Linked DNA regions of Homo sapiens: region 2 is linked to region 1. The links come from fine-mapping of genetic effects on gene expression. A gene starts in region 1. The other region holds a variant in brackets. All regions are shown on one strand. Distances are between the middles of the regions.

Region 1 (10,767 bases):
CAAAAGAAAATCAGTATGTTGGAAAGGTATACTGACATACTTTGTAGTATAAACCCATGTTTATTGCAGCACTAGCCACAGCAGTCAAGGTATGAAATCAACTTAAGTGTCCATCAACAGATAAATGGATAAAGAAAATGTGGTACATGTACACAATGGAATACCATCTGGCCATTAAGAAGAATGAAATCCTGTCATTTGCATCGACATGGATGAAACTGGAGGTTATTATGTTAAGTGAAATAAGCCAGGCACAGCAAGACAAATACTGCATGTTCTCACTCACTTGTGGAAACTAAAGAAGGTGATCTCAAGGAGGTAGAGAATAGAACGATAGATACCAGAGACTTGGAAGGGTGGGAAAGGGTGAATAAAGAGAGATTGATTAATGGCTACAGAAATACAGTTAGATGGAATAAGTCCTGGTGTTGAATAGCACAGTAGGGTGACTTTGGTTAACAACAATTCATTGTATATTTCAAAATAGCTGGAAAAGAGAATTTTAAATGTTTCCAAGACAAAGAAATGATACATATTTGAGATGACGGATATCCTAATTACCCTAATTTGATCATTACACATTGCATGCACGTATTGAAATGTCACATGTACACCAGAAATATGTACAGTTATTATGTAGCAATTTTTAAAATCTTGATTTAAAAAACTTCCCCCAAAATTTCAATGCTACTTGAGAAGAATAATGTGAATTCATTGTCAGCTTCACATTCATCTAACAGTTAATATTATGTTTTTAAATTCATGTTGTCTCTCTAATTCTCACAATTTTCTTAAATATTGACATTATATGCCCTATTCTATAGTAAAATAAACTGGTATTCTGAAAGGTGGAGCAGCTTACCCAGGGCACACAGCTACTAGGAGGGGAGCCCATGACACAGGCCCCCCATCCTAGCCCAGAGCTCTTTTAATGAGCCCCCATGCATCCTCAGCATGGGTTAATTTACCCTGTCCTTAGCAGACAGCAGAACAGAATAGAATGAGGCTAGCGTTAATAAGCTCTGACTGAGGAGGAGGGGAGCAGCAGAGGGCCTGGTTTTGGTAGATGGGAACTGAGGACTGCTGTACACAGTCCTGGGCAGCCAGGAGTAACAGGGCAGCATGGACCTGGGCCTTAGAGAGAGGAGAAAGTCTAAGACGAGACACGTGTTGGTGACAGTGCCAGCTTTTACAGGATCTCCCATCACCCACCTCTTTTTTTTTTTTTTTTTTTTCTGATTAAGGAACTTGCTGTGGATGAGGTGGTTGAGGCCAATGTGGTCAAAAAATATTCAGGAAGCATATTCATACTGAACAAGCAGACCACAGGTGCAACACTTGGGGATCACAAAGCCTTAGCCTTCCATGGCACAGGGGAAAGCAGTGGTTTGAATCAGAGCTGTTTGAGTGAAATCAGTAACAAAGTGCTTCAGGGAAGAAATCTCATTTTCAAGAGCAGATTTCGAGATGATTCAAAATTGGAACATCTGACAGTGGGGTCCTGCAGGAACATTCTCCAGGGCCTGACTAGTTGTTCTAAACCACAGGTAGGTCCAGGGCCTTTTGGCAAGCTGTGCAAAGATCCCAAGTCATTTGCACTCAGTACTTGATGAGCAAAGGCAGCCCTGTCAGGGGCAATGATACCAGCCAGTGTGAAGGACAACTGTGCAAATGGGAGGGTCCACTCCATCCTGGTGACGGAGAGGGATGTTTTGTTCAGTGGTCTGTGCACACGTGCACTTTGTTCCAGCTTCTGCTGGCGAAATCACTTTCTGATTTCTGCATTCTTCCTTTGATCATGCCCAGTAAGAACTCACCCTCCAAGCATGAAAAATCCTTCCATTACTGAAAACCTATGTGTCAGGTTTTACCATGATATATTCCTACGAAGTAGATAGTCTCACCTCCCTTTTCTAGCTGAGGACTGTCACCTCTGGAAACAGGAAGGGGCTTGCTCAATACTGCACAGCTAAGTCAGCGACTCCCACTGTGACCAGCCCCGAAGCCTGAGCACACTAGAGAGTTTCAGAGCCGACCATCCCTGGGATGGTTGTGAATGGCACTGCCTGGCCCACATACATGCGATGAAGGGCACAAAACTTGCATTTCCGGCATACCAAGAAATCCCTCTCACTCTAAGAGTTTCCAGACCTGCTCGCAGCTATACATTGAGACCAGGAGAGCCTCAAGAGGCCCAAAGCCTGTGTCAAATGCTCTTCCAGAAGCCCTCAGGAGAGTCCTCACCCATTTATGGATTAGACAAACTAGACCACACACTCCTGGAGTGCTGTAGCACAGCTGGAAGGTATTCAATAAATCCTCCCTTTTCCTGTCCTCACCATTTCCCATGTATGACATGATGGCCTACAACTACCATGGGCGTCTTGGAATTCTCTTGAAGCTGGTCTGGGGTGCAGGTTTCATCACACTCCTGCTAGAGTCATAGACAGATGCACTAAGCACTTACTTCTTGCCAGCCATGCTGCTTTGTTGTTTGGATACATCATGTATTCGAGTGCTTCCAGCAGCGCATTGGAGCGGATATTACCATTATCCCAATAGAAATGAGCTACTTGGGAGGCTGAGGTGGGAAGATCACTTGAACCCAGGAGGTCAACACTGCAGTGAGCTGTGATCACACCACTGCACTCCAGCCTGGATGAAAAAGCAAGGCCCTGTCTCAAAAAACAAACAAACAACAACAACAACAACAAAAACAAGACACTGAAGGGGGGAAAGTTACATCACTGGTCTAATATATTACTCAGAATAAACAGTAGACATGAGACGTAAGCATGAGCCTTTCTGTCTTCACAATCTGAGTTCCTAATCAATCAGTCCTTTATTTAGCCTCCCTTGGAAGTCTCTGGAACTTCTCTAGGCCTCACCCCTGTGGTGGTCCTAGTGACCCCAGAGCTCCCCTTAGTCACAGAGTGAAGAACTGAAGCAGCAGCACCTTAGAGTCAGAGGAAGTCACAGGCCCATGGACGCCTAACGATATCCTCAGTATTGGGCTGGAAGTGTAATTAGGGAAACACTCTGACTTGTGCTATCTCTGCAGCAGGTTTGGGAATTGTAGCCCCATCGGTGCTTGTAAGACTAATGACTGCACAAGAAATCTTCCAACCATAAAAACTGGTATTTCCTACATCCTGGAAAGGATGCTACTCTAAAACTTTGCCTGCTACTCCAAATGCTATTTTTTTTAATTGCTAACAATTTAGATAGCTTCTATAATATTTCAAAATTTGTAATAAGCTCCCTCAGAGCCTAAGCAGAGAGAAACAGAATCTCATGACCTCCTACACTTACCTAGACTGTGGTACTTTGGCCCTGTCCTCTTATCTTGACTGAGAATGGCATATGATTTTGTTTTATCTTATTTTAGAGAGAAACATTTAGATTATATGTCTTTTATCTATGATCTGGTTCCGATTTTTTTTTTCCCTCAGAAAGACAGTGTTCAGTTCTATTCTTCAGAGCAGAAAATCAGTCTCTTAACAAATCATCCACAAAATGCACTTCGAAATTCTGGAGAAAAAAAAGATGCATTGTGCACAGCCTAGCAACTGTGAATTGATTAATTCTAACCCATGTTTTTTCTCATTAGGTCTAAAATCCCACCATGCTAACTGCCCATTATTTTCTGTACTGTTTATTTTCTGCACACCAAATAAAAGGCCTTGACCCTTCAAGGAATAACCCAATTTCTCCAGAGGAAAGATATTATTTGACCAGAATATCCTTTTACAACAAAATAAGGATCACAACCTTACCATATAAAGCTGTTGAAAACAAGACTAAGTAAGTTCTGAATGTAACCAATTAGAATTTCTACAATATGTGGGTGCTGCTGATCAAATTGTTAAAGGGTTGTGTGCTTGTGGATTAGTTTTTTTTTTCTTTTTTCTTCTCAGTTTTGGCTTTAGTATCGTTTTGTTTTGTTTTGCAAGAATGAAAGGGGAAGGGCCTCCTAACCAACCCAACAGATCAGTTCCGGCAAGCCTCGAGGCTCACGGGGTTTATGCACACTAACTTCACTGAGCCAGGGAGCACGGAAGTTGTGCCACTGTGCAACTTGGGTTTTCTTTATCCTGCAGTCTTTACCTCAGCAGAACCGCACACCACAGACTCCCTCCAGCTCTTTGTGTGTGGCTCTCTCAGGGTCCAACAAGAGCAAGCTGTGGGTCTGTGAGTGTTTATGTGTGCTTTTATTCACTTCACACTTATTGAAAAGTGTGTATGTGAGAGGGTGGGGTGTGTGTGTCAAAGAGAGTGAGGAAGAGAAGGAGAGAGAGATCAATTGATTCTGCAGCCTCAGCTCCAGCATCCCTCAGTTGGGAGCTTCCAAAGCCGGGTGATCACTTGGGGTGCATAGCTCGGAGATGCAGTCCCCCTGGAAAATCCTTACGGTGGCGCCTCTATTCTTGCTCCTGTCTCTTCAGTCCTCGGCCTCTCCAGCCAACGATGACCAGTCCAGGCCCAGCCTCTCGAATGGGCACACCTGTGTAGGTATGCAAATAAATATTTTTGTATTTTCTATGTAGACATAACAATGGGATCCAGTACTTTGCTTGCGTAATAAATCACATATTTTATTAAATCAAGAATTGTAAGATTCCAGGTAAGGCACCAGTAACCTCACTGACACAGAGAAATGTGGAGTCTAAGAGTAGACATTGACACTACATACATCTATGTGAATAAAAAGCATACTAGTTTAAATTGGGCATAAAACTCTTCCACCTCATTGGCGATTGGAATTTTTTCTTCTTGTATAGGTAACTATTATTTCAGGCTATTTTAGTCTGAAATTTTTACTGCTTTTCATGGGCTTTGACCTCATATAAACACATCTGAGTTTGAATCACTGCCCTCCTCCTACCCTTCTCTCCCATTTCCTACTGGCTGTGGAAACCTGGAGCAATGTACTTAACCCTCTCCATGCTTCTGTGTCCTTATTGGTGAACTGAAGTGAGTGAGACCCATCTCATAGGGATACCATGGAAATTGTGACCATGCATGTAAATCTGTGGCATGTGCACACAGTAAGGACTCAACCATCTTAGCTTCCTTCCGTCTCTCAGAGAATCCAGATTTGGCGATCACCTGGAGACGCTGAGCGTTGATATGGCTTCTTGGCTCATCTGTTAATGAAGTGTTTTATTTCCAAGAGGTTTTTTTTGTTTGTTTTTTTTGGATGAGAGCAGGAAGTAAGGTAAGATCTTTGATATTCACATTGTAGCTCTCATAACATGGGAATTCTCATAATAGTGGTGGCATTTAGATGGTACAGTCCATGGAGCCACATAGACTCAGAACTCTGAGTAGTAAGTAATTGTTCAATGAGCAGACCTCAAAATACAATCCTAGCTTGAGAAGCCAGGAAAATAACTCTAGGATAAGTCTGATGGCTACATGCTGCAAATGGAAAATCTGGACACAGATTCTGACACTTAGGAATTGTTTCTGGAGACAATATGGAAATATATCTGAATTTGTCCTACTTCCTCAAAATCATGGCCTCAGGTCATTGTACATGTTAGGAGATGCATCTCTACTTCCAAAGTCCTTTTTTTTTTTTTTTTTTTTTTTTTTCTGAGATGGATTATCGCACTGTCACCTGGGCTGGAGTACAATGGTGCAGTCTCAGCTCACTGCAACCTCTGCCTCCCTGGTTCACACAATTCTCCTGCCTCAGCCTTCGGAGTAGCTGGGATTACAGATGCACACCACCACACCCAGCTAATTTTTTGTATTTTTAGTAGAGATGGGGTTTCCCTATGTTGGCCACACTGGTCTCGAACTCCTGACCTCGTGATCCGCCCCCCTTGGCTCCCAAAGTGCTGGGATTACAGGCATGAGCCACCGCGCCCAGCCTCCAAAGTCTTGTTTTAATTAAGACCCAGATTCCCCAAGACTATTTTCCAGAGACCTGAAGGCAGAGGTGTGTGGTCCTTTGAACCATGCCTGGGAGATCATCCTCCCCCAGTATTTGGTTTCCTTAAATAACTATTTGCCACCTTTTCATTTTTCTCAAAACAAAACCCTACTGCCCATCAAATGGAAATACACTTGAGAAAAGCTCAGATGAAATCAGTTTTACTTCTGGGCTCATTGCAAACTAAATGTTTGAGTTTGGGCAAGTTGTCAGGGCTGAGATCCTTGGACCTTCACTTCAGTAAAATGGACAGGAGGTACACATTCCTTTCTCTGCCCTGTTCCCAGTGAGGTCATAGAGGGTAAGAAGGAGGTGTTGGGGAGATTTCAGGATGGGGTTGCTCTGGTTTTTCTATTATTGCTGCATCAAAAATTACAATAATAACCATTTGTTGTATTATGATTTTATGGGTGAAAAATTTGTTCGAACACTGGCTGGTGATTCTTCTTCTCCATGTAGGAGTGACCGAGGTTAGGAGGTGGTATTCGGATGGTGGATTGATGGATCTGGGACTGACAAAAACAGCTTCACTCACATATTTGGCACCTTAGGGGTGAGGGAATGGCTAGAGGGTTGGCTCATCTGGGAGTGCCATCAGAGTGCCCACACATGGCTATCTTGGGTAGTAGGCTTTCTTACCTGGCAGCTTAGGAATCCCAGAGAGAATTCCAAAAGACAGGAATTAGAAGCTGCCAATCTTTCAAGTTTTGGGTCTGGAAACAGGCACAGCATTACTTGCCATCTTCCATTGCTCAAAGCATTCACAAGTTCCTCCACCCAGACTCAAAGGGAGGGGGCAGAGACCCTTCATTTTGATGGAGAGGGTCAAGAAATGTGTGGTCATCTCTATCATTCACAGAGGTTCACTTTGGTTGCCCATACAAATTCTCATGGCCCCAAGGGCTTGGAGACTCTGTTGCTGATTAGGTTTGAGGATGATTTAGCATCCATTTTCCCAGCAACTCCCAACTTCTTCTGGTTAACTCTGCCTGGGTGACTTATTCACCTGTTGTCATAATAGCAAGAAAGGTGGGTGCAAGAGGAGTCCAGTCTTGTGATGAACACTTACTGAGCACTGCCTATGTGCTGAGACAGGGGCTGAAGGTGGTCCAACTTGGTGCTTCACTGATTGAAGTTGGCTTTTGGGGGAGACAGGATTAGAAATGTGTGTGCAGGGGAGTTTATTGAGAAGTGCTCTTGGCAAAAAGACGAGCAAGAGAGGAAGGCAGTGGGGTTGGCAGAGAGAAGCCGGGCTGTGCTGCAGCCATAAAAGAAGTCCCACTGAGAGCTCTGGGACTAAAATAGCTCTTCAGAGTTGTCCTGAAGTAGGTGCAGGTCTTGGAATTCCCACATCAAACAGTCCCTCGATGTGACCTGACCACAGGGGAGGGCTGTAATTTTGAGACATCTCCCGTTGGTGGAGACAGTTCTGGCAAGGGACTCTGATGCTGGCATAATCCTTCAGACCAATGGCTCCAGAAGCTGGGGAGCGAGTGTCTCCTGATACGGGATCCTGGGGTGTACCTGCTGGAAGGGTTGTATGTGGGAAGCATCTCAGGAAGCAGTGAGGTCCGCTCTCTCGCAGCTGGTGGGAAGAGGAAGAAGTGTGTGGAAGAGAGGAGAAAAGAGAAGGAATTGTTGATTGGAGTTCTTCTAACTCTACATTTGTTGCCAACACCCTAACAACTTTCTGACAAAAAGCAGGGTTACATGACTTCAAACCCTCCAGCAGAAAGGTGGTCCCCAAACATTTCCGCGCACTCAGTTCTCACATGGCCACTGAATATGCGAGAGCAGGGATACACAGATGAAGGAGAGGAAGGATTTTTAGAATGTCTGTCTTCAGGAAATTCACTGTCCAGTTTAGAGGAAAACGAAAACCTGGAGCCTTGTAAAGATTACAGTCCTTTAAAATGAATGTTGAACTGGGCCCTTAGTGCCCTTGATAATACCCTTTCTCTAAAACTCTTTAAACTGCCAATGCCAGAGCCAGCAGAGCACCATGAAGTGCAGGGCAGAGGCTCATAGCTTGGAAGCAGGCACTGCAGACTCCGCTCATAAAGCCACCTGGGGAAGGTGAAGTAATAGCCTCAAAAAGAGTGTTTAAAACTTTAAGATTTTAGGTCGTGTGTGGTGGCTTACGCCTGTAATCCCAGCACTTTGGGATGCTGAGGTGGGCAGATCACGAGGTCAGCAGATTGAGACCTGCCTGGTCAATATGGTGAAACCCTGTCTCTACTAAAAAAAAAAAAAATGTAAATATAGATATACAAAAATTAGCAGGACACGGTGGGGCATGCCTGTAGTCCCAGCTACTCAGGGAGCTGAGGCAGAAGAATCGCTTGAACCCAGGAGGCAGAGGTTGCAGTGAGCCGAGATCACATCACCACGCTCCAGCCTGGGCGACAGAGCGAGACTCCATCTCAAAAAACAAAACAAAACAAAAAAAAAAACTTTAGAATTCTAGAAACATTTCTACCTGAATATTGCTAGTCAAAGAAGGAAGCTTCAGTTATCTCAAAGATTCTGTTGCATTCACCTGCTTGCTGAAAGAACCCAGGCCACAGAAACTTTTCTGAGCAAAAGGTGATTAGGCAGCTGGATTTCTGATCATCCCATCTGAGCAAGAATGATTCATCTTTTTTTTTTTTTTAATAAAGACAAAGTCCTACTCTATCACCCAGGCTACAGTGCAGTGGTACAATTATAGCACACTGAAGCCTCAACAGCCCAGGCTCTAGTGATCCTCCCACCTCAGCCTCCTGTGTAACTGGGACTACAGGTGCACACCACCATGCCTGCCTAATTGTTTTATTTTTATTTTCGTGGAGACAGGGTCTCATTATGTTGTCCAGGCTGGTCTCAAACTTCTGGGCCCAAGCAATCTGTCTGCCTCAGCCTCCCAAAGTGCTGGGATTATAAGCATGAGCCACCGTGTCCAGCCCTCTTCATTTTTGTTAGTTGTCAGCTGTCTTTTAATTGCCATTCCAACATAAATTCTTACCTTGATCATAAAAGGATATCCTTGCCTTGATTTGTAAGATCATAATAACCTAAAATATTTATATCACCTTCCCAACACATGGAAGAAGTTCTTCCTTCCTATTTTTCTTCAAGATCAACTGAACTAGTTGGGTTTCATCCATTTTTATGAAGATTATTGTTGAGTAATCAAATTTGCTTCTTACTCATAAAGTTTGTTTTGCTACTGGTCTCCCCAACACTTCTCCGTGGGGGTTGTACCTTCCATCTTTTCTCTGACTTGAATGTGGACTAATTGGAGTGATGCCTGGAGAAAGTCACTACAGCCAAGTGCTCTTCAGCCACACAAATTACATTTGCGAGTTAATAATTATAATAATTGCCAACATTTATTGGACACTGACTGTATGATAAGCCATCTTCCAAAAGATTTATGTGTACTAACCCATTTAATCATTACAATGACCTTATGAAGTCTGTATTATCATTATCCTTGTTTGGTAGGCGAAAAAATAAAGACAGAAATAAGTAACTTGTTCAAGGTTACATAGTTAGTTAAAACTTGGCTTATTCCTCGCTTTAATTATGATTATGTTATTGTTGATGTGATTAAATCAGGGTAAAATATTTTTCCCATATTGTTTTAAATAACAGCTTTATTGAGAAATATAATTCATGTATCATAAACTTCACTCTTTTAAAGTGTAAAAGTGGCATTTAGTATATTCATGAGTTGTGCATTGATCACCAATATCTAATTCCAGAACATTTCACTGCTCCCCCCAAAAATCCAATTCTCTTAGCATTTACTCCCCATTTCCTTCTCTCTATAGCCCTTGGAAATCACCACTCTACTTCCTGTCTCTATGGGCATTTCACATAAATACGATAATATAAAACATGGCCTTTTGCTACAGGCCTCTTTGACTTAGCATAATGTTTTCAAGGTTCATTCATGTTGTGGCATGTATCAACCCTGTTTCTTCTTACAGCTGAATAATATTCCATTGTATGGACATACTTGGTTTTGTTATTTATTCATTGTTGATGAACATTTGAGTTGTTTTCACTTCTTGGTAATTATGAATAATTCTGCTATGAATATTCATGTACAAGATTTTGTGTAGACATGTGTTTTTATTTCTTTTGGGTATATACCTAGGAGTGGAATTTCTAGGGCATGCGGTAATACCATCTTTAACATTTTGAGGAACTGCCAAACTATTTTCCAAGCAGCTGCACCATTTTACATTTCTACCAGCGGTGTATGAAAGTTGTAACTTCTCCACCTTCTTGCCAACACTTAGTTATTCATCATTTTGCTATCGCCATCATAGTAGCTGTGGAGTGAGATCTCATTTTTGGTTTTAATTTGTATTTCCCAAATGATAATGATGTTAGCATCTTTTCATGTGCTTATTGGCCATTTGTATATCTTCTTTGAAAAAAAATTTCTATTCAAATATTTTGCCCCTCTTTAAATTGGGTTTGTCTTTTTATTGTTGAATTGCAAAAATTCTCCATATATTCTAGATAGACGTCTTTTTTCAAATATATGATTCACAAATATTTTCTCCCATTCTGTGTTTCCTTCCCCCACTTTCATAATGGTGTCCTTTCACGAACAAAATTTAGTAATTTTGATGGAGTCCAGTGTATCTATTTTTTTCTTTTGTCTCTTGTATTTTTGGTGTCATATCTAAGACCTATATTTTAAAATTGTTGTTGTAGTTATTAGTTTTCTTTTGTCATGTGCCTGTTCCTTTGTCTTATTTCCCAGACACCAAGTTCCTCACCACAAATATAGCAACCAGGAGCGAAACTCCTGGGGTTGCAAGTAACAG
Region 2 (12,184 bases), 130 kb after region 1:
CTTGTTCTTTATTAGAGGGAATATCCAATCTGATACATGGTAGTTGCTCTAAAGTGTTTGTAGAAGGGAGAGAGGGAGGAGAGGAGGGAGGAAGGCTGCCTCACAGAGTTGTGTAATTGAATTGAACAATTTGTGCAAGTTTTTCCTGTCTCAGTGCCTGGCACATAAGGGGAACCCCGCATTAGTTCTCTTCCCCACTCTCGCTTAATGCAAGTTATCTGGGAAACAGCACATCCAAGCATCATGAGTAGGTTAGACATTTATTTGTAGGACAGATTCATGCAGCAGAGGCTACAGAAATGGGAGTCTGGCAGGAAAGTGTGTGTGAAAGCCAAGGAAGGCTCTGAAAGTTGCATAATGTGGTGCTCCCACAAGAAAGGCACTAAGGTAATGGGAGCGGTGGGGACCTGAGCAGATGGGAGGCAGTGTGGTGGCACGGTGGGACTGAGAGGCAGAAAGCAGGAGGAACCCTGCTTACCTTCTGCAAGCGCCACTGCAGGACAGACGGAGGAGGAGCCAACTAGCGGAACTGGGAGACCCATGGTTCCAACGCTAAGCAGGTAGCCCTTGTCTTTGATTCCCGGGCCTTGAAACTCTCCAGCGTTATTAAAAATACCAACCCAAGAGCTATTTTCTTTTTTTGGTAAAGTAACAATCCCCCATCTGCTTTGAGACTTTAATTCTGGGGAATGGATAAAACAATGCTTATTTAACTGGTGATGACATTTTTTATCTTTTTCCAACAGCAGTTACTTAGATTCCTCCAAGTGACTTTGTACTGTTTGAAAATAATCCATTCAGGTCTAATGCAGGTACATGTAATAGAAAAGGGAATATACTGTGTAGATTGTCCACAGCAGTGCAGGATGGAGAGAGCCCAAATGTAAACAGTGAAGGAAAGGCACTGAGGATACTCCCTGCTTTGCTGGAAGACTGGCAGAATCAGATGAATGAGGGATTGGTGTCATTACTCTCTTTCTCCCACACAACAAAGCTTTAAGAACATCAATTGCTTGCTGACATTAGGGCTTAAAATATTACCAAATTCGAATTATTGTATTTACTAAATATCCATCAAAAATGGGAACCAGTGGGCTTTCTCGATGCATGGAAATACACACACACATACCCACACACAGGGAAACGTTAAATGAAACTATTACACAAAATAGTAAACATGTGCCAACTATGCTGTAAAAATAAATATCTATCATTGATAAAGGTCAGAAGAAATTTTGAAGCAATGCGGTAGTGATCTAACACTCACTAGGTTGCTCACGCTCTTTAAGTTTGGAAAATTTTTCTTGGTAAATATTCAGTCTTTTTCACATATGTACATTTAAGGTACATTTAAAACGAGTTTCCTAAGAACATAAATGCTCAAGAGGAATAAGCAGGAGTTGATGAGGAAAATCTTAATTTGCATTCCTCCTGCCTCAAATGCCTGAAGTATCTTGGATATAATGTTGCGTGAATAAGGCTTTTAGTGTTTAATGTGATAGGACTTAAACATTCTCTTTTTGCTAGGGTCTATAAAACATTTGCTATTAATAGCCACTACTTTTCATTTTTATCTACCAAATTTACTAAGGAAAAAAAATATGCCAAGGCTTCTATTAGTGTGCTCAAACCTTTTCTATTATCTGGCAAATAAATGTCACTCCTCTTAAACCTGGGACAGTTCACTTGGAAAGGGACACTAGGTGGTCTGCCCTAAACATGATGCTTCACATAGTAGGGCTCTGACTTGTCAACCTGCTTCTGACTGTGTCTTTTGGTCTTCCTCACAGTTTTGCTGAAGTAAATAAGGTGATATTTCTATAGTCATTGGAGATACTGAAACTGAAATACATCTTCCCCAAGTTTGCACACTAATAACAGTAAAGCCTTGGCTTAACACCAGAAGTGAAGTCTAAAACATTCAACCAGGAAAGCACAGGTTTGCTATATTTTGAAGTTCATCGAGTGACCTGGTCTGCCTGGGCCTTCCAGGGCTCCCGCTGAGGAATACAAACTCACCCTGGCCCCAGTTGTGATTCAGCACCAGCCACTGTCCACTCCAGCTGAAATCCTAATGGGGATGATTCCAAGACTAACTAGTTTCTGAGATATCAGCAAGGATTCCAGGAATCTCCCAGGTAGCTGAGTCCCATTTCTTCAGATTAATCCACAGAGAACTGAGCTTGGAGAGTGTTAGCAACATGGAGATCCCACTTCCCAAGACAGGATTGCCTGCCGTTTTCCCACCTACCCTACCCCTCCTCTCGACATCCCCTCTTCCGCCACTGAAGACAAGAAGTTCATCACCCACCCCTGACCGAGAATGAGGGTTGCCGGGGGTATGGAACTTATTTCCAGTGGTGTCAGATCCAATCATGGAGTTTTCTTGATTTGTGTTTCTTCTTTGTATTTGTAGAGCCAGACGCAGAAGACAGATCATCCGATTTCTAGAGCAAAGCCCTTTCTCTACTTTGCTGGCACACTTCAGAATTATTTACCCCTCCCTTAGTGTGCCAGGCTACAGAGGGTATGCCTATGCCTGCGTAGTTCTTGTCTAACTCCTTCCTGTGAAAGGGAGAGCAGTCCCAGACAGAATCAGAAACCTAGTTCCTCATCCAGTTTCCCAAGTCTGGAGTTGCCATTGCACGGATGACAGAGAAAAAGGTGAGGGAGTGGGGTGGAAAAGAACCATATCATTCTTGTAAGTTTCAACGTGTTTTGCAGGTTACTGACTCAACACAGCTCATAAATTCTGCCTGCATCTCGCAAGCCACTTGCTTACTCACTATCTCTGCTAAACATATCTTGTGAGTTTCATCCATTCTATTTGTTTTTCTTGTCTTGTCTGGCAGAATGAATATTCTCATCCTACAGTAAACACACATTGTAAGCAGAAAGATGTAGGGAAAAATAAGATAAAACACAGAGAAAAGTTTTGCTTTGTAGTGGCAGGAGAAATAGAAACTCAAACAGATAATAGCTGAGTCACAGTAATGGTGGAGTCTCGAGCAGAAAGTGGTGGGTGCTGAATGCTAAGGGGTGACAAAGTACCTGTCACTGAGACTGCATGGTCCTCTGAGATTTACTGGGAGCTTTCTTTCTATGGGGTTGTTTCTGGTTTTTAAAGAGGATAAATCATCATTAATACAGGTGCATCCCAGGACGCCATACTTCCTGACCAACTCCTCCCTCTTCCAGCCCCTACCGTGCTGGAAATCACACTTAGGATAAGAATAAGGATGGAGGTTTCGTGGCATGTGTGGAAGGAGGAGGCAATTGAAGAAGGAGGAGCAGAGGAAGCTCAGAGACCCACAGAAAATATACAGGATATCATGGGATGACTGCTGCTGCGTTTGAACACATTTGTTTGTTCTAGGAATTATTTTGAAAGTAAACATAGTAAAGGGGTTCATGTCTTAGCCCTTTGAATAATAAAAGCAACAAGCATATTGTCCGATTCAAGCCATGTATTAGTTTCCTTGGCTGCCATATCAAAGTACCACAAGCTGGGTGGCTGAAAACAACGTAAATTGATTGCCCCAGAATTCTGGAGGCTGGAAGTCTGAGATCAAGATGTCAGCAGGGTTAGTTCCTTCTTGGGGGTCTGTGAAAACATTTATTCCATGCCTCTCTTCCAGCTTCTGGAGACAGCTGGCAATCTTTGCCATTAACTGGATTGCAGAAGCATCATTCAAATCTCTGCCTCCACCATTGCACGGCCTTCCCCCTGTGTCTTCATTTCTGTCTCTTCCTCCTCCTCTTCTTATAAGGACCAGTCATACTGGACTGGGGGCCCATCTTATTCCAGTATGACCTCTTCTTAACTAGTTACATCTGCAACGACTCTATTTCCAAACAAGGTCACATTCTGAGGTGGGGTTAAGACTTCAACACATCTTTTCGAGAAACATAATTCAACCCATAACAGTCCACAATTAAGAAATATAAATTTGCATTTTATTTATTTTGAGTGCTCATTCTCTATCTCTCTGAAAATAGGAGGATTGAGTTTTTCCCAGTTTAAAGATTTATGGTAGATTTCACGTATAAACTGTTTTATATATGACACAAACTGTTAACCGTGGTTATCTCACAAGAGTTATCTCTTAGGGGAAGGTGACGGGGGGTGGGGGGGCTTTCATTTCTGCATTGTAAATGACTATAATGTTTGCATTTCTAAAACAAACCCATGTACTACCTTGCAATAAGAAAGAACAATGACATACTTTCAAGGAGTTAATGGCTTTTCTTTCCCTCGCAGCCTCTAGCATCAGAGTCTCCTTAGGAGAGGGATCTTCATGGATGAGGAAAAAAGCAGGAGGCCAGGGGCATGTGCCATTTGGAAAATTATGCTAAAGCTACAATTGTTTTGACATGCTTGTCTTTAGACATTACTTTATTTTAAATTTTAAAATAGCATTAAAGGAGGACTCAAGGTTTTCACATTTACCCGAAGGGAGCACGGATTTTCAATATTGAGAAATACAAAGGCTTCTTGCAGCCACTCATGGAGGCTTCCAGTCAGCGAAGGCAAAAAGGGAATATTGGCTTTTAAAGCTTTCATCCAAAGAAAGATGCCCAGATAAAATACAAGATACTCAGTCAAATTTGAGCTTAGGATAAATAACAAATTTTTCAAGTATAAGTATGTTCCAACCATTGCATGCATGAGACATACTAATCCAAAAAATTATTCCTTGTTTGCCTGAAATTCAAACCTAACTAGGCATCCTTTATTATTTATGTATGTATTTATTTATTTTTGAGACAGAGTCTTGCTCTGTTGCCCAGGATGGAGTACAGTGGGGTGTGATCATGGCTCACTGCAGCCTTGACGTCCTGGGCTCAAGCAATCCTCCTGTCTCAGCCTCCCATGTAGCTGGGACCACAGGCACATGCCATCATACCTAGCAAATTTGTTATTTTTTGTAGAAACCAATTTTAACTATGTTGCCCAGGCTGGTCTCAAACTCCTAGGCTCAAGCAGTCCTCCTGCTTCAGCCTCCCAAAGTGCTGGGATTACTGGCACAAGCCACAGCACCTGGCTGGTACCCTTTATTTTTATTTGCTAAATCTGGCAGCCCTATTCCAAACATACCAATTTAGATAAGCTTTTTCTAAAATTTAGACCACAGGAGAGATTAGTCCCAGAAGTCACTCATAAAAGGAGTAAAATGAGGTTGTAACTCATCACATTTTTCTTTGCTGATTTTGCACAAGCCATGGAAATGTGGTTCAAATGAATCCTATTTTTGTCAACACTTTGTATCAGGAGTTCTTGACAAATTGTGCAGGAGTTGCAGGGGGTCCGTGAGCCTCCTGAAATCACAGGCCAGGTTAAATACACGTGCATTTTTGTGGGGAAAGGAACCACAATTAGATTCTCAAAAATGTCTGAGACCCCCAAGAAGGTCAGAGGGCACCACCTTAATGCCTTAAGGCCATAGCTTTGAACCCAGGGAAGGCATTTTTTTCTGAGGGATTAGGCATTATTTTTCAGATTAATTACTTTTCAGATGATTGACTTTCTGATGGCCTAAACTGCAAAATGGAGAAAATCTCAGAAAATGTAAGAATGGGAAGTTTAGTCTGCTGAAGCATCCCTCCCAAGTGTTTGAGATGCCAAATGTTCTGCATGTTTCACAAGAGCTGAGC[G/A]GAAGCCAGGTCAAGGGTGGTGCTGATCATTGTGACTTCCCTGATGAAGTTGAAGGTTAGAGACATCTGCCTTGAATACCAAAAGCCCTTAAAGCGAGAGATTGAGAGTGGGAAACAGACACACAGAGAGCAACACTCAGGCCATGAATTTTCTTACTACCTTTAGAAAATAAATGACCATTTTGATAATTGCTACTTTATTGTTTTCCTTAGAACTCTTTCATCAATCTACCAACAGCCCTTACCAACGAGCTTGACTGGCCCCAACTCTCTGGTGCTACAGGATTTCTGGACTCCACTGTTGGGTAAGTGTCTTTGTGCACCCTCAGACATTTCAATACCTCTGTGTAAGGAAAGAACAAGAGATGGGGGTTGCTACCAAGATGTTGAAATGCGAATTATTAGGAACTGCTTCTAGAACATGAATTTGAGTTCATCCACCATACAGTAGGATGTAATGCAAATTGTATTTTAGCAGCACTGGCAAGAAAAGCATATTCCTGCTATGGGCAGGGTGGGGGTGGAGTTCCATAGTTTACCTCTGATGGAAAATACTAAACACATCACTGAAATTTTCTGATTCAAGGAAAAACAAAGTTTACTTATTTGTTCTCAGAAATAAATTTGTAAAGATAATGGCCAAAGCTGATTGGCACTTCTCAAAGTCCTAGAATCATCCTGGCTTTAATGCCCCAGATTTGTAGGTAGAGACCAGGCCTGGTGAGTTTGAATGACACACAAACCCAATTCACTACATATGCCTGGGTGTTAAGGCCTGGGGTCTGCTTCCCAGGGCCCACACTTGGCAGGGACACCTGTGATGCTGGTGAAACTTGGCAAGTGTCCCTAACATGGTAGTAAACCACAGATATGAGTCTATGGCCATCCCACCCTGAACACACCAGATCTTGTCTGATCTCTGGAAGGTAAGCAGGGCCTGGTTAGTACTTGGATGGGAGAATGTCACAGATATGAGAGGCAATTTCTCTCCCAACATCTCCTAAACATTTATGACAGTTAATAGGCACAAGGAAGATGGCAAATGAATGGCTTCCATGTGTAAAAAAGAAGAAAGGGTAGAGCTTTGCTTTTAGGTCTAAAGACAGGACAGAACCAGCTAGGAAGCCCCTCTCTGACTCAGGCAAAAATGGCAGAAGGCTGGAAAGCACCATGAGATAAGCCATGAGAACTGTGAGGAGGGCAAGTGTGCATGGGGTGTGATTTACCCAAATCTGTAAGGAACAGGAATGCCCCCAAAGGACAGACATTAATCATTTTAACAAGCAATTATTCTGATGAACAAAGAACATTGTGTGCCATGAATAATTTATTTGATGATTTTTATTCATCTGCTTTAAAAATATTTCTTAAATACTTAACCACCTAATCAGGCACAGATGTTACAGGTGTCCATTTAAAGGTAGATAGGGCTTGTCCCATCTTTGTAGTCAATTGCAATTAAGGCAGATGAGACAAGTGAACAAATAATGGTAATGCAAGGAAGATATACTAATGACAGGTCTCCTACAGAGCCACGGGGCTCCGAGGAAAAAGAGTTCATGGAAGTGATCAACAGTCACTTCCTTTGGGTGGGTAACACATGGGAGACTGGGGTCATAAAAGGGGCATAGAAGAAACTAGGAAGGGAACTAACCTTCAGGGAAGCGTACTCATATTTACATAGAAATAATCTGCCAATATAGGGAAAGCCAAGGAGATGTGTTTTCCAGTGTAGTTATACCTTTTCAAACTTAATCATGTTATTTTAAAAAAGGCTAGTCCTTGTCATTAGTGTAAAAATACTAAAATACTTACTAATAGGGATAGTAAGAAGTAACCTTTGAGAAGTAACAAGTAACTATATGCCAAGCATTTACTGAGTGTTGTATAGATATTCTCTCATTTAACCTCCTTGTGAGGTAGTGGGTATTGTTCTCTGCATTTGCAGTTGAGAGATCCAAGGGCAAATAGACAGAATAAGAATCTTGACCAAGGTTGCCCAGCCAAGAGTGGTAGGGTCTGTTTTCATGGAACCTTGTGTCATATCATAACAAAGATATGTTCTTGCCTCTCAAACTTTGTGTTGTTTTTATTCTTTGTGTGGGAATATGGCTCACTCTAACCATTGTCCCTCTGTGTGAGAGCATAGCTATGGGATGGAGAAATGACTAAGAACCAAGAGAAGTCCTCCCCATGTAGAGGTGTGGCCTGCACTATTTCAGTGACCCATCATATGCCTCCTTAGGGTCCCAATAAGCACAGACATCTGGGACTTTCTGAGTCCTAGCCTCAGTCCCATCTTCCCTCTGCTACAGCCTCTGTTGTCTTTACCTGGAACACATCCAGAGATAACCCAGCCAAAGCAGGTTTATAGAAGAGAGAACCTTGGTCATCCCCCCAATTTCAACATCAGAAAATAAAAAAATATATATGTTTAAATGCCCTCCACCCAGTCTAGTCATTTCTCAATAAAAGTATCTGGAATTTTCTCTCAATCAAGGCTTTTATGACAATAACAAAAAGAATTAATTAGGTATGAACAATGAACACAGTTTACTGTACCTTTAATGAAAGCTTAAATTTTTACATATTGACTCTATAAATCCCAACTACCTTTTGGCCCCATGAAGTTGCCATAAAAGAAATACCGATCCGATATTTAAAATTAATTTCCAAGTAGTTTAAATCTTTACTGGAGTCACTCAAGGAATGAAAGAGGAATCCATTCACCATGCCCAGCAAACAGATAAAAACATGTTTCCTCATCTCTTTCTGCTTACAGCTCGCACACACCAGTAGTTGCTCTGTATTTCCTAAATCTAAACTTCCCCAAAACTTGACCCACACTTAGCTCCTTCTCCCAAACAGACTCTGTTCAGTCATTTTGAGTTTCTATTGGGGGATGAGAGGGAAAGCTCCCTTTTCCTTTCTGCATCTGTTCTGTCCTCCCACCAGGGGTTTACTCCCTTATCAATGTAAAATCCCACTAGCTCTTCAATCCTGCAGCAGTTTTTACCCATCATCCTGATCAGTGCCCAGCAGGCAGACAGGATCTTCCATCAAAGCATGGCAATGGGGTAAGGGGAAGAGGAAAAGTTGAGAGCCTTCAGACATGAATGGTTTCTAACTCTTATAAGCATTATGCAGAGAAATTCTGACACCATCTCACAAAGTAAGTGACCATCTAGGTGTGGCTTATATGAAAACCATCTCTATCCTGAGCTAGTCTTTATTGACCTAGTACCTTTTTATATTCGGTTCTCTATTACTGCTTACAAAAAACGCATAGTCTGCTTAAGCAACTTCCTTAGTGTTGACTCTAAGTCCTGTCCTTACCTGTTGTATTTCTAACGAGGCACACACCACAGCTGGTTGTTCACCTCCCCTGCAGGAACTTTTCTTTCTATGTGTTTGTGGGACCCCAAGCTCCCTAGCTGTTCCTCTCAGAATGCTCTTTTTGCCAGCTGTTTCTGTGTACTGTGCCTGTGTTTGCTGCCACTCAGCTGGAGTGGAGAAGAATATACCAACTCCTTTTAATGGAAAAGGAAATTCTCTGTTTGGAATCTGAGTTGCAATGGATTCCCCCATTAAGCAGAAACAGAGGCAGCATGACACTGCATCTGTGGGATCATAATTTGCTATGTCCCTCCCAGCAGTAGTTACAGCTAAAGTATCCATATACCATTGTATAAATTATATTCACAGATAATTTGTGCTAGGCCAATCTCCTTATTAAAGGAATAGAAAGTTATAAAGTATATAAAAATATCAAAGAGATTAGCATATGATGGAGGTCCTCATTTGTGGAATCAGGAAAATGAAAAGAATGTTGACCCAGAAGCAGCACTTCTGAGAGGTGTATACAGCTCCCATGGGCATTTTGGGCACATGCCCTTTGAATCCAAATGCTTATCCACAGAATTGGCGGATTTCTCTATTCAACTGGATCTCCAGAATGCGCTTCCTACCATCATGATCAGCCTTCTGCTATGGGTGTCAACAGCGTCCTTTGGAAAATGTGCCTTGTGAAAGCATCAGGAGAGGAAATGGCTCCTTCCCTTTCATTCTTTGTTTATGCTCTTTGTCCTCTCAAAATTTATTATCCCCTTCATAGATAACTTTAATTGAAATTATGTGCATGCATTAAATGACAAACATAACCCCTTAGTTTTACAAACCTTTAGTTCTTTTAGTTGAGTTGATGTTAACAAAAACTGTTTTCTTGACTCTTGGGCTTCAGAAAATTCAATAAGTGATATCCCTTAAAAAATATACTGGGATTTTTCTTCAGTGTGATTCAGGAAGAGATTGAGTAGGTCAAAAGCAGAAAAAAAAAATCTCTGTGGGGGTTAAGAGCTTGGCAATAGAGCAGTATAACTGTAAATAGGAAGAAAAAAGTATTTTTAAAAGATTAAAAATAGCTACTGGGCATCTGAGGTGAAAAGATTACTGGAGGCCAGGAGTTTGAGATCAGCTTGAGCAACATAGCAAGACCTCATCTCTAAAAAAATATTTTTTTTTAATTAGCCTGGCATGGTGGCATGTACTTGTAGTCCTTAGCTACTCAGGAGGCTGAGACGGGAAGATTGCTTGAGCCCAGGAGTTTGAGATTGCTGAGATTGCTGTGAGCTATGATCACGCCACTGTACTCCAGCCTGGGCAACAGAACAAGACCCTGTCTTTAAAAAAGTAAAAATAAAAAAGTAAAAAAAATTAAGATTAAAAATTGTACTTCATGTTCAGATCACTTTCCAAAGCAATTCATATAACAGGAAAATCCTACTTACATTAAAGAAACCAAAGATCTAATACCACATGTAGAAAGATGGGAAACAATACCAAAACTTTTACAAGAAGGAAGGACTTCTCATTTGAAAGCATCATTTAAAATCCCAGAGTAGGCATGATAGAGTGAAAGGAAGTCTGTATTTTCAGTTATAAGGGTGCTCATTCTGTGTTATTCCAGGTGGAACATTTAGCATTCCTCAACCTCATTTATGTGCTCAAGTTAAGTTGGACTAGATGATCTCTGACGTTCTCTCCCACGCTCATTGGGCATGGTTATTGGGCAACATGATCCTACTTTATGACGCTACTTGGTTTAGAAGTACTGAGGGAAATTGTTCAAGAGAGATGCTCCTGCTTCTGCTACCCACTATGTCTTCCCCTACTCCTTAACTAGCCTGTACCTCAAGACAAGACATGGCTAACTTTATGGGTCAGAGCCTGAAGTTCTTGAAACAGTGTTTGGCCAGGGTATAGAGCCTATGGTATAGTGCAGTCTCATGCACAGTAAGCCCTGTGTTGTGTGATATTGAGTGCTTGACAGGCTGTTAAATAAACATGGGACTCCATTATTGTCCTTTATGTTTACTATATCTCTCCAGCAAACCCAAAAGAGGAAAACAGGCATCTAAGTCCTTAACAAAAATAGCCACCTGAACCCAACACATCTAAACTGAGCATTTCTGGCCGTTCGTATCCCCTTATTCTGAAGGTGGGGCCAGGAGTCAGTCCAGTCAGTAGGGTTCTGCAGACAAGGATAAGTGATAAGGATGAAAAACAGGGCAGCAATCAGAGCTTTTTCAAAAAAAGTAAAAAGCTAAAATTCATCATAAAAAGCAATGAAGGCCAAAAGAACCAAAAGCAGCTACCAAAATTGTCACACCAAGCTGGAGAAATAAAACTGAGATCTGTAGTCAGCATAAATGAGTGCAAACCAGATGACATTTTCTAGATTAAATGTTGCTCCCTCTGCCTCCAGCTTAAATTTGGCATATTGAACCAAAGATGTAGCAAATACTCAGACAAAGCCATTGTTATAAGTGGTACAATAATGCTCTTCAGGGGCATTTAAACACACCTTTAGTGAGAGGTGTCCTAGAATAGAAGCGTTAAAGGTTATCTATTCTCTCCTACCCAATAGATGTTATATGAGAGAATAATTTTGAAAATCAGTGTATAACACTGAACCAAGTCACTTGGGGCAGTAAAGCCAGAAAATTGGAGAGTAGGGAATTGCAGCTAAAATTTGCTAACCTAATTTCATGTTTCAAAAAAGGACATGTAAGTACTAAACACTAATGGGCCTAATAACCTTATTAAATCCATTATTCGCAAATTACATGTGATATAATTGCAAATGATTAGCCCTGTTATAATTATACTTTGCAAAACAAATAATTAACCAGAGAGGTGGTCCTCTGAAGTTGGGTGAGGCTGATTGGAGTGGGATAGTGTCCATAGCAGCAGTTCTCCAAGTGTGGTCCATGAACCCCTGTGGGGTCTCTAAGACCCTCTCAGGGGGTCCACAAGTGAAAAACTACTTTCACAACAATACTAAGGCTTTCCACTATGTAGCCATTGGTACAGATGGTACAAAAGCAATGGTGGGTAGAACTGTTGACACGTTAGCGTGAATCAAGTGCTGGCACCAAACTCTATTAGTAGTCACTGTGTTCTTCACCTCCCAGTTTAAAACAAGAGGGGGACATCCTCCCTTAAAAATGTCACATAGTACAAAGCAGAA

What was found. PIP is the estimated chance that this variant, and not a neighbour inherited with it, causes the effect.
Region 2: its variant is fine-mapped to the expression of AOAH in whole blood (TOPMed, PIP above 0.99).

What each region holds. Positions count from the first base shown.
Region 1 is chr7:36,717,767-36,728,533 of GRCh38, reverse strand. AOAH (acyloxyacyl hydrolase) reads left to right here and starts at 4,040. Exons shown (of 21, transcript NM_001637.4): 1 at 4,040-4,512. The coding sequence starts at 4,386.
Region 2 is chr7:36,588,115-36,600,298 of GRCh38, reverse strand. AOAH (acyloxyacyl hydrolase) reads left to right here. Exons shown (of 21, transcript NM_001637.4): 12 at 5,869-5,960. AOAH-IT1 (AOAH intronic transcript 1) reads left to right here and starts at 179. Exons shown (of 3, transcript NR_046764.1): 1 at 179-556; 2 at 1,993-2,138; 3 at 2,417-2,465. The variant G/A (reference allele first, on the strand shown) is at 5,656.